Homo sapiens: one gene and its partners. The protein of the gene in region 3 interacts with the protein of the main gene of each other region in a pairwise test. Each region holds a gene or a part of one and is shown on either strand. Other genes may lie near its edges.

Region 1 (3,750 bases), on a different chromosome or scaffold from region 3:
TTTTGTGGGGATGGGGTAGCCCTCAGCAATCAGGGTCCGCTTCTCCTCCTCTGTCAGGAGCAGTGGCCCTGATGTCCCCTGTAATTTCTGTAGGAAGTATGATGTGGTAGTTAGGAGCCAGGCAGCCCTGGGTTCAAATTCAAGCTCTGCCATGTGCTATCTATATGACCTGGGCAAGGCACACAATGCTCTATGCCTCAGTTTCCTCATCTGGAAAGGGAGTGGATCTGGGTGAAATTCAGTAACATGTGTCAGGTGCCAGGGCCATGCTGAGAGCTCAGGTGTTAGGCTCTTAGTGCATTGTTCGGGAGGGCTTCCTGGATCCCATCCCTGAGACTGCACCCTCAAAGCTTACTTGTCCAGGGTGCCCCAAACAGCATCTCCCTCAGACCCCTCCCTACAATCTTGGCTTGGGAGACTCCACACCCATCCCAGGGCTCAGGGCCTAGCTCCATGTTTCCTGGGGATTCTGGACCATCTGGGCACTTCCCCTCACACAGCGCTCCTTGGAGGCAGCCTGGGTCATCCCCTGGAGGTCAGGAATGTCAAGTTCTAGTCCTGGCTCTGCAATAGTCTCCTGTTCACCATGAGGCAGGGCGAAAGGATTTGAATTCCTGACCAGATGCGGTGGCTCACGCCTGTAATCCCAGCCCTTTGGGAGGCTGAAGTGGGCAGATCAAGAGGTCAAGAGATTGAGACCAGCTTGGCCAACATGGTGAAATGCTGTCTCTACTAAAAGTACATAAATTAGCTGGGTGGTGGTGTGCACCTGTAATACCAGCTACTCGGGAGGCTGAGGCAGGAGAATCACTTGAACCCTGGAGGTGGAGGTTGCAGTGAGCCGAGATCGTGCCACTGCACTCCAGGCGACAGAGCGAGACTCCATCTCAAAAAAAAAAAACAAACAAAAAAAAGCCAGACACGGTGGCAAGTGCCTGTAATTCCAGCTACTTGGGAGGCTGAGACAGGAGAATTGCTTGAACCTGGGAGGCAGATGTTTCAGTGAGCCGAGATTGAGCCACTGCACTCCAGCCTGGGCAACAGAGCAAGACTCAAAAATAAAAGGATTAGAACTCCCATCTGCCAGGTAAGCATCCCTCTGAATTCTGATGAGGGTGGGGATCAGTCTCGGGGCTCCCCAAACCCTCCTGACTGGCCAGTGTGCTCAGGTGGATGTATTCAATTCCTCATTTCTGGGATCAGCCCACCCCCAGCTCCTTACGTGAGGGGCAGTGAGGAGTGGGGAGGTGGAGATGGCCGTGGAGGAGCGCGCCATGGGCCTGACAGGGCTGGAGGGGGGCAGAGAGCGGGGACTCTGGGAGCCGTCGCTGTCACTGCCATGGCTGCTGGGGGGCGTCGGAGGCATCTGCACCAGGTCCTCTGGGGAGAGCAGGGGAAACCGAGTTAGCAACGTTGCACATCAGCTCCACTTGGACATCATGAGTTCAGCTGAGCATGAGCTTGCACCAGCCCTGACATTGTGGGACACGGACTGCCAGGCGCTTGGTCTCAGCTATGACATCAGAAGCCCCTCTGCAGGGTCAGAAAGACAGTTGACATCTGGGTAGCCAATTCCTGGGTGCTGCCTCATCTGACACCACAGAGGCCCAGCTCCTTTACAAGCTCGCCCTTGGCATAGACATCATAGGAGCTGAATTCGTGGGAGGTCCTCTGTGACCTCTGACTTCACAGGGTTCAGGGCCTTAAGCTCAGCAACTCCAGAAGATCACTAAGCTCTAGCTCAGCAACCCCAGAAGGTGACTGGGGCCTCTCTCTCATAGGGTCAGGCTGGGCAAGCAGGAGCGATGGCAGCAGTAGATTGGGCAAGAAGAGGACTGGACGAAGGCTGGGTGCAGTGGCTCACCCCTGTAATCACAGCACTTTGGGAGGCTGAGACAGGTGGATCCCCTGAGTCAGGAGTTCAAGACCAGCCTGACCAATATGGCCAAACCCCGTCTCTACTAAAAAATACAAAAATTAGCCAGGCGTGGTGGTGGGCACCTGTAATCCCAGGTACTTAGGAGGCTGAGACAGGAGAATTGCTTGAACCTGGGATGGGGAGGTTGCAGTGAGCTGAGATCGTGCCATGGTACTCCAGCCTGGGTGACAGAGTGAGACTCCATCTCAAAAAACAAACAAACAAACAAACAAACAAAAAACAAAAACGAAGAGGACTAGACGAAGAGTGGGCATGGATGGAGGGACAGTGGGTAGGGCAGGGTGGAGAGGATATTCTGGGTGGGGGAAGGTTGTCAAGAGATAGGGATGGGCTGAACCAAGGAAGTGGGGATGCTATCTGCCTATGACTGGAGGGGAAAAGAGCCCTTCCCCTGGACACACCTACCCGGTGTCACTTTGAGGAACTGGTTCACCTCCAGAGGCTCTGCTTTGATCACTGGCAGCTGAGTCATCTCTCCCGGGGCCTGAGGAACAGACAAGCCCAGCTCCATTAGCTGCCCCTGGGTCTGTCCCCACCATGCCATCTACCCACCTCCTCCCTAAAGCTGGTTGCCTGCCCTGCACAGTTGGGGAAGTGGCTGGGCTTGGAGTTCTGGGCACAGCTGCAAGGGAACAGAGGCAAGCTCTTGAGCTTAAAGAAGCCAAGTCACACCTAAGAGAAAGGATTGCTGGCCAAGCAGTGTAGCTCAGACCTTAAGCTCAGAGAAGGTGAGCCTCTGAGTGTGGGGCCACCTTCCACACCAACTGTGAAGGCCACACAGGCTTTGGTATGTGGGTTGCCATGAGAATAAAACAAGAGGTAATGTCTGGAACAGTGTAGCTGTTCAATGGCTGGTAGCAGTAGTACAGAAGGAGGCATTAATTGGCTGGGGGCTCCGAGGATGCTCCCTGAGAAGTCAAAGTCTGAAATGAGTCCCGGGGTATAAATAGAAGTAGAATCTAGACAAAGAAGTTGGAGGCAATGAGAGCTCCTAATGGGTTGAAGTAAGGGCTTGATAGAATCAGATGGACATTTTTAACAAACATGCATTTCTCTTTATTTCTATTCTGACTTGTTGTTCCAGAAAGGACTTCAAGAGCATGCATGGCTTTGTACACATGACTACCAACATGCAAGTAAGTGGTGCTCTGTCTGAGGAAGGCGTTGTTGGGGGCTGGATTGCAGGCCCTGGGCTGCAGCCCCAGAGAGATCATGATATTGTGGGTGGGACGCAGAATCCAGAATGTAGGCTGATGAGTAAGAATCCCAGAAGGTTCAAGTTGGCAGGGACCTTGGAGATTCCTTGGTCTACATCCCAGCTCAGCCCTCAAGTGACAGAGAGGGGACTGCGGTGCAGAGAGCTCACTGTTGACAATGCCAGCTCCTGTGCCTTCCACTAGGGGTTATGACCTCACTCGCGTGGGCTTCAGGGTCTGGCAGGCCGAATTTGGAAGGCATGTCAGTTGCTTCTAACTGCATGATTTTGGGCAAATTACTTAACCCCTTGAGCCTCAGTTTCCCTTTCTGAAGTCTCCTCTTCCCTGGCTGCTGCTGCTGTCACTCCATCCCTTCCTGCTTTGGCAAGGCCTGAGGAGTCTCAGAGCCAGTCTTGGAGATGGTCTCAAAAGATCCTGCATATTTGCCGCCGACCCTTGATCCCACGGGTCTGTGGTGGGGCAGGGAGGGGCTGACCTTTCTTGCCTTCAGCCACGTACAGTTAGAGCAAGTGAGCCGTGTGGCCAGCAGGGGGCAGGGCCAGCCACGCTCCCATCTAGGGATTTTAAGATGCTGCTCATCCTGTGGAATCCCAG
Region 2 (3,750 bases), on a different chromosome or scaffold from region 3:
GTTCCAGGTGAAGAGAAGGGCACGTGCAAAGAGAAAAGAGCTGAGACTGGTGAGGTCAGTTGAAACCAAATCAAGAAGTGCCACATTAAGGAGTTTAAACTATCCTAGGGGGAAGGAGTCAATGAGAGGCTTTAAGCAGTGGAGTGACATGATAGAGTTTGTACTTCACATCTTCACCCTCAGGTTAGAACTGGGTGAGGAGGTTGGATGAGAAGGCCATTTGAGTTGTCTAGTGAGAGGTAAGGATAGAGAGGAATGAATGGATTCCAGCAACAGAAGGTGGAATCGACAGTCATTGATTAGATGGGTGTGAGTGGTGAGGGAGAAGGGAACATTGAGAATGACTTCCAGTTTCTGGTTGGGGCAACTGGGCACACACACAGTGCCACCGACTGAGATAACCACATGGGGAGGAGATGACTTTAACATATATTGAGTTTTAAATGTCTGAGGTATATTCAGATAGAAAGACCTGGTAGATAATAAATGGATTCTGGAGTGAGGATAGAGTTGACATCTGATGATGCTGTTCTGGAAGTCTCGGTTTGCAGATGGTAATTGCAGACCTGAGAGGGACCAGATCCTGTGCTGGGAGAGGTCTGGTGAGAAAGGCAGAAAGCTTGGTCTGAATGCAGAGAAGTGCCTTTGACCAGAGGAACTCATAAGGGAGTCTGAAGGTCATGAGAGGTAGGAGGAAAGCAGCAGAGCTTAGAGTCACTAAAGCTGACAGAGAAGGCTTTTGAGGAGGCAGTGGTCAATTATGTCCAATGCTGCTAGAAGGTCAAGGAAGGATTGAGAAATGTCCATTGGATTTGGCAAAGAAAGTGGAGCAGGTGGTCATCAAGATGCTGGGTGGATGGGAGACCAAGGAGAGAAGAGAGGGATTCAAATAATGGAAACGAATTGCTGAGGGCCTGGTCACTCATGAGAGAGCTCTGGCGGTGGCATGGGGGAAATGGAAGGTGTTTGAGAGGAAGCGATTGACAGAGAGAGAGAGGAGTGAGGGGGACTACTCCTAAAACCTGGCTAGGAAGGAGAGCAAAGGGAGATATTAGGTGGAATGGGAGGTGGATTCCACAAAAAATCCCAGTGAGAGACACTTTTTGTTTTGTTTTTTGAAGATAGAAGATATGTGAGTTCGTATCAAAGCTGATTGTGAAGAACCAATACAGAGATATTTTAGAAATGAGAGAGAGGGGAGGCTGCTGGGCCAGGGGCATAATCAATAAAAGGAGGTCTCTTGAGTACAAGGGTAGAGAGAATGATTGCAATCCAGGGCTGAGGTGGGGTGACTGGCCACAGAAAGGAGGAGGGATGATTCCTCCATGTCCTCCAGCAGGCGGGAAGGGGAGCTGTGGCCATGGCACTGGGACAGGACAAGGGCAAAAACTACTCTTGAGACAATGGTAGTGTGAAAATAAAACCCCCCTGAAAACTGGACTCTTGACTTCTTTGTTCCAGGCCCAAAGCTGCTGCCAAACTTTGGGGTTCTCAGCAGCACGCCTTGCAGACCAGGCCAGAGGCATTGATCCAGGGGCAGAGATGGTACAGGAGGTCAGGAGGTCAAGTCCTTCCTGAGGACCAGGATGACCTCCTGGCCCTGGGGGATGAATAGTGAGCCAAGGGGGAGGCTGGCAGGGACCAAACTCCAAGGTTGAAAATATTGGTGGAGAGACCATAGCTGCACTCTAGGAGTTCTGCACACAAAGCAGTGGCATGATGCCCTGTCTGTGACCACAGTGCTTCTCAAAACCTTTGTGGCCTTAATTCACTCCACTTCCCACCCCATCCCTCTCTTGAAATGCTGGGAATGGGTACACTACCTGTCTCCTCTAGCTTCTTGCCACATCAGCCAAATTTGCCCTTAGTGCCTGCTGAACTCTATTCAGGCTTCTCCCCAGGTTTACCTAAATGCCTCAAGCCCTTCCTTTTTAATAAGGCTCTTTGACCACTCCAGCCCTCACTGTTCCCATCTCCTTGCCTTCTGCAAATACTTGCGTGTACACTGGAATTGGATCTTGTTTCTCTCGTGTGTTACTTCATTTTCTTTCTTTTCTTTTTTTTTTTTTTTTCGTTTTAGAGATGGAGTCTTGCTCTGTGGCCCAGGCGGGAGTGCAGTGGCGCGATCTCGGCTCACTGCAACCCCTGCCCTCCCTGGTTCAAGCGATTCTGCTGCCTCAGCCTCCTGAGTAGCTGGGATTGCAGGCACTCGCTACCATGCCCGGCTAATTTTTTTTTTTTTTTTGTATTTTTAATGGAGACGGGGTTTCGTCATGTTGGTCAGGCTGGTCTCAAACTTCTGACCTCAAGTGATCCACCCGCCTCAACTTCCCAAAGTGTTGGGATTATAAGCGTGAGCCACCACGCCAGCCTCATGTGTTACTTCACTTTCTGCAAATATCAAACTCTGGTGACAGTGAATCCTTAGAGTGCATAGCATAAAACTTAGCATCTAGTAGGAGCATATGTATGTTTATTATTAATATAATGATTATATCTTATAGTTGTATATGGTGTTTTTACTCTTTTGCCCTAATTTGTCAAGCCTCCCAGGTTCTTACCTTGATGACATAGCGCATGTATTGTGGCCGTTTGGATTTGAGGACGATCCCTATGGTGCAAGGAATGAGAACCAGGACCAGTGATATCACGATGCCTTTATAGGGCACCTTGTCCTTCAGGTCCCCATCATAGATCCCCCTGGAGTAGATGTACAGGAGGAGAGGCATCATGCCAAGGGCACAGAAGGTGGAGCAGGTGGTCATCACAATGCTGGTGGGAGACATGGGAAGAGGGGAGAGAGAGAGAGCCCATAAATACAGACTATTTTGTTGAGTGCCTGCTAAGTGCCACTGTGCTAAGTGCTTGACATATGTGGCTTCAGTTCCTTTTCCCCATAACATTAGGCAGTAAGCATACTATCTTCTTTTCGCTGACAAGGAAGCTGGGGACTAGAAGAGTTGTGTCCTGCTCAAAGTCGCACAAGGTAGTAAGTGGCCAAGGCAGCATTTGAACTTAGGGTGGTTCAACTGCTTCAATCCCTGTGTGCTTCATTGTGGAAGGAGCCATTCTGATCTCCTTCTCTGTAATGGAACCCTTTTCGCATTGAGCACCTCCCCCATGCCAAGCCCATTTTGTAGAAAGCCAACTGTGTGATTCCATTACTCTGGTCATTAGCCCATTGGACCATGGAATGGCACCTGACCCACAGTTACTAAATGTCTGGTTTAGAGCCTAGGGAATGGCTTCTTGTAGTGACTTTGTCCAACGGAGACAATAACAATTAGCTATATCAGCACATTTTACCTCGTGGGGAGTCTGAGTGTGAGACACAGTGACAGGACACTTGGTCTTTGGGGATGGGTGGCATGGGAGTGATGCTCAGGCAGAAGTCAAAAACCCTACTAGAAAAATCAATAAACAGATACCATGATTAAAAGGACTGTAAAAGAAATAGTGAAGCAGTAAGAAACAGAATAATTGAAGGGCCATAATGGTGGGGTAGTAGAGAAGGCAGTAATAGATACCCATGTTGAGTAAGTGACAAGATAACCTGGTCAGATTTGCTTTGCATCTTGGATAGTATTCCAGTCCCCAACTCTGGTGTTCTCATGTTCTTTACTTTCTGGTTCCTCTTGATATTATTTAAAATAAATTATGACACTCAGAGCCTGAATAATATGTCCTTCCAGCTCTAATATGTATCCTACTTGTCCAATTTCCTTTTCCATTTGGAATCTTATATATGTT
Region 3 (3,750 bases):
ATTACTATAACTTGCTATATATTCCTTAGGGTGTTCTCCTTTCAAACCAACATTCTTCCCTGGGCCCAGTCAAGGGCTAGTTCACACTGGTCTTCTCAGTCAGTCTCTCCCTTTTTGTAAATTTTTTTTTTTTTTTGAGACAAGGTCTCCCTCTCTCTCCCAGGATGGAGTACAGTGGTGTGATCACAGCTCACTGCAGCCTCAAAATCCTGGGCTCTACTGATTCCCCCACCTCAGCCTCCTGAGTAGCTGGGACTAGGGGCACAAATCAGTTCAGGATACTATGCAGTAACCCAGACCATGATGTTGGTGGGAGCAAGGGAGCAAGAATAAAACAAAGTTATAAATAAGCAGAAATTCTGACTAAGCATAAGATAGAAGACAGAAAAGAGAGAATAGACCAGACACAGTGGCTCATGCCTGTAATCCCAGCACTCTGGGGGGGGCCGAGGCACACAGATCATTTATGGTCAGAAGTTTGAGACAAGCCTGACCAACATGGTGAAATCCCCTCTCACTAAAAATTCAAAAAAAAAAAAACCACTAGCTGGGCATGGTGTCGCACGCCTGTAATCTCAGCCACCCAGGAGGCTGAGGCAGGAGAATCGCTTGAACTCAGGAGGCGGAGGTTACAGTGAGCTAAGATTGCACACTGCATTCCAACCTGGGCAACAGAGCCCAGGCTGAGACTCCATCTCAAAAAATAAAATAAAAATAAATAAATAAATAAATACAAATAAGAGAGAATTGAGGTCTAGACAGAGTGTTAAGAGTTAGGCTCCTTCTCGTCATGGCCTGGATGGCTGTTTTTTTTGTATGTTCTTTCAGCTTTCACTCATACTGTCTACTCAATGTTTCTTAAAATTTCATTTTTTTTTTAATAGAGATGGGCTTGCTATGTTGCCCAGGCAAGTCTCAAACTCCTCAAGTGATCCTCCTGCCTCACCTCCCAAACTGCTGGGATTGCGGGAGTGAGCCACCACACTTGGCCTCATTCAGCCTTTGCTTTTTTTTTTTTTTTTGAGACGGAGTCTCACTCTGTTGCCCAGGCTGGAGTGCAATGGCGTGATCTCAGCTCATTGCAACCTCCGCCTCCCGGGTTCAAGCAATTCTCCTGCCTCAGCCTCCCAAGTAGCTGGGACTACAGGCATGCGCCATGACACTCAGCTAATTTTTTTTTTTTTTGTATTTTTAGTAGAGACCGAGTTTCACCATGTTGGTCAGGCTGGTCTTGAACTCCTGACCACAGGTGATCCACCCACCTCAGCCTCCCAAAGTGCTGGGATTACAGGCGTGAGCCACAGCGCCCCGCAAGCCTTTGCTTTTTACTTCTCCTACTAAAACATTTTGATCAGGGCTTTAATTCGTCTTATCTACTAAGCTGTCCCCGTCTACCACACCCAGAACCACTCTGAGAATTCTTCCAAGACTTTCCATAATTAACCCTACTGAAGGCTGAACTCTTTGTGAGATCAGTTATGCCTCAAGACTACCAATTCAAATGTAAATGAATACCTGATAATAGATTGGGGTTATTATTTCATGCTTACTCAGTTAAAGTCATGCTTGTATATTTCACATTCTTGCAGACACAGAAATACAACTGAAAATATCTTACCAAGTTAGAGAATGCTGATCTAGCTTGATCCATCATTCTGAACTGCCACACAGAAGAACCTAGGTATCAGAATAGAGAATTATTGAGAAAGATACTACTGTATCAGATTAGTGAGCTTTCTATTACCAGGCTAAATGATACATTAAATTTTTAAAATACATTATCACTTTTCTAGAAAAGGTATTTAACCATAGTTTACATGACAACTAAATTAAGTGGGATCCTTTTTAAAGTTTGTTATATACATAATTCTTTTTTTTTCTTTTTGTAGAGACAAGGTCACCCTATGTTGCCCAGGCTGGTCTTGAACTCCTGGCCTCAAACAATCCTCCCACCTTGGCCTCCCAAAGTGCTGCAATTATAAGTACGAACCACTATGTTCTGAGTAGACAAAAGTGACACATACTGCTGGGCGGGGTGGCTCACACCTGTAATCCTAGCACTTTGGGAGGCTGAGATGGGTGGATCACCTGAGGTCAGGAGTTCAAGACCAGCCTGGCCAACATGGAGAAACCCTGTCTCTACTAAAAATACAAAAATTAGCCGGACGTGGTGGTGGGCGCCTGTAATCCCAGCCACTCGGGAGCCTGAGGCAGGAGAATGGCGTGAACCCAGGAGGTGGAGCTTGCAGTGAGCCAAGATCGCGCCACTGCACTCCAGCCTGGAAAACAAGAGCAAAACTCTGTCTCAAAAAAAAAAGAAAGTGACACATACAAAAAGACAAAATTAAGACTAAGGCAGACAAGACCAGTTATGCTACAAATACCACAAACCATCTCCAATGGGAAGGGGAAGAAATACTGATCCTGACTGAATGAATAGTTCCTACAAGTGATTCGATCTTTGACACAAGAAGAAACATGAAACACAGATTACGCTGTTTTACAGATGAAGAGGCCAGTTATTAGAGAAACTAAGTGGCCTGTTCAAGGCTGAAAATTGATAATCTAAGCGAAGTTAAATGGGTTACTGGGTTATAGAAATTGTGTTATCATCTCTGGAAATTTAAGACATTAACCTTAACTTTTGTCAAAGCAAAATACATCTCTGTAATCAAAGTCCTAAGTTAAGTTAAAGGCCTTAACTGAAATCTGAATTTTCCAGTTAATTTGGTTTGAGGGCATCTAGATACTTGAAAATGACATTATCCTGAGATTTGCAAAATGGACATTTATTGGATACCATTTTAAAGCTTTTCCTATATACGAGTACACTTAGGGCATATTAAACACACACGGCACAAAGCAAGCTGTGAGGTATACGCAAATTGTAAAGCAAAGGGTATTATAACTGGCATTAAGAAAAAGCTTTCTGGCCAGGCACGGTGGCTCATGCCTGTAATCCCAACACTTTGGGAGGCCGAGGCAGGTGGATCACGAGGTCAGGAGTTTGAGACCAGCCTGGCCAAGGTGGTGAAACCCCATCTCTACTAAAAATACAAAAATTAGATGGGCGTGGTGGTGGGCACCTGTAATCCCAGCTACTGGGGAGGCTGAGGCAGGAGAATCGCTTGAACCCGGGAGGTGGAGGTTGCAGTGAGCCGAGATGGCACCACTGCACTCCAGCCTGGGTGACGGAGTGAAACTCCATCTCAAAAAAATAATAAAAAAGAAAAAGAAAAAGCTCTAAAACCTATTACAAAAAATTCTTTTTAAATTCAAGCTTTAAAAACCAGTGTCCATATGCAATAGACCATATTCTTAGAAGCATAATCTTTTTTTTTTTCTTGAGACAGAGTTTCGGTCTTGTTGCCTAGGCTGGAGTGCAATGGCAGGATCTCGGCTCACTGCAACCTCCCCCTCCCGGGTTCAAGCCATTTTCCCACCTCAGACTCCGAGTAGCTGGGATTACAGGTGCCCACCACCATGCCCAGCTAATTTTTGTATTTTTAGTAGAGACGGGATTTTACCACGTTGGCCAGGCTGGTCTGGAACTTCTGACCTAGGGTGATCCACCCACCTGGCCTCCCAAAGTGCTAAGATTAGTTACTTGATAAGAACATCCCAAGGAAATCGAAGGCGTGAGCCACTGCGCCCAGCCAGAAGCACAATCTTTTGCCCCTTCTGTTACAAAAAGCTTATCACTACCACTCCACCAGAACAGTAAGGACCCAATCATTAGAGCCAGAACTG

Evidence for each region.
Region 1: the proteins of TFRC (region 3) and CREB3L1 interact in binary tests that used the Homo sapiens proteins (3 or more experiments, as listed by UniProt).
Region 2: the proteins of TFRC (region 3) and SLC10A1 interact in binary tests that used the Homo sapiens proteins (3 or more experiments, as listed by UniProt).

Annotation. Positions count from the first base shown.
Region 1 is NC_000011.10:46,308,662-46,312,411, reverse strand, and holds part of CREB3L1 (cyclic AMP-responsive element-binding protein 3-like protein 1), read right to left. Parts: intron 2,424-3,750; coding exon 2,345-2,423; intron 1,381-2,344; coding exon 1,223-1,380; intron 88-1,222; coding exon 1-87.
Region 2 is NC_000014.9:69,783,536-69,787,285, forward strand, and holds part of SLC10A1 (hepatic sodium/bile acid cotransporter), read right to left. Parts: intron 2,773-3,750; coding exon 2,562-2,772; intron 1-2,561. UniProt on the Homo sapiens protein: As a major transporter of conjugated bile salts from plasma into the hepatocyte, it plays a key role in the enterohepatic circulation of bile salts necessary for the solubilization and absorption of dietary fat and fat-soluble vitamins.
Region 3 is NC_000003.12:196,075,446-196,079,195, forward strand, and holds part of TFRC (transferrin receptor protein 1), read right to left. Parts: intron 1,678-3,750; 5' UTR 1,655-1,677; coding exon 1,619-1,654; intron 1-1,618. UniProt on the Homo sapiens protein: Cellular uptake of iron occurs via receptor-mediated endocytosis of ligand-occupied transferrin receptor into specialized endosomes. Endosomal acidification leads to iron release.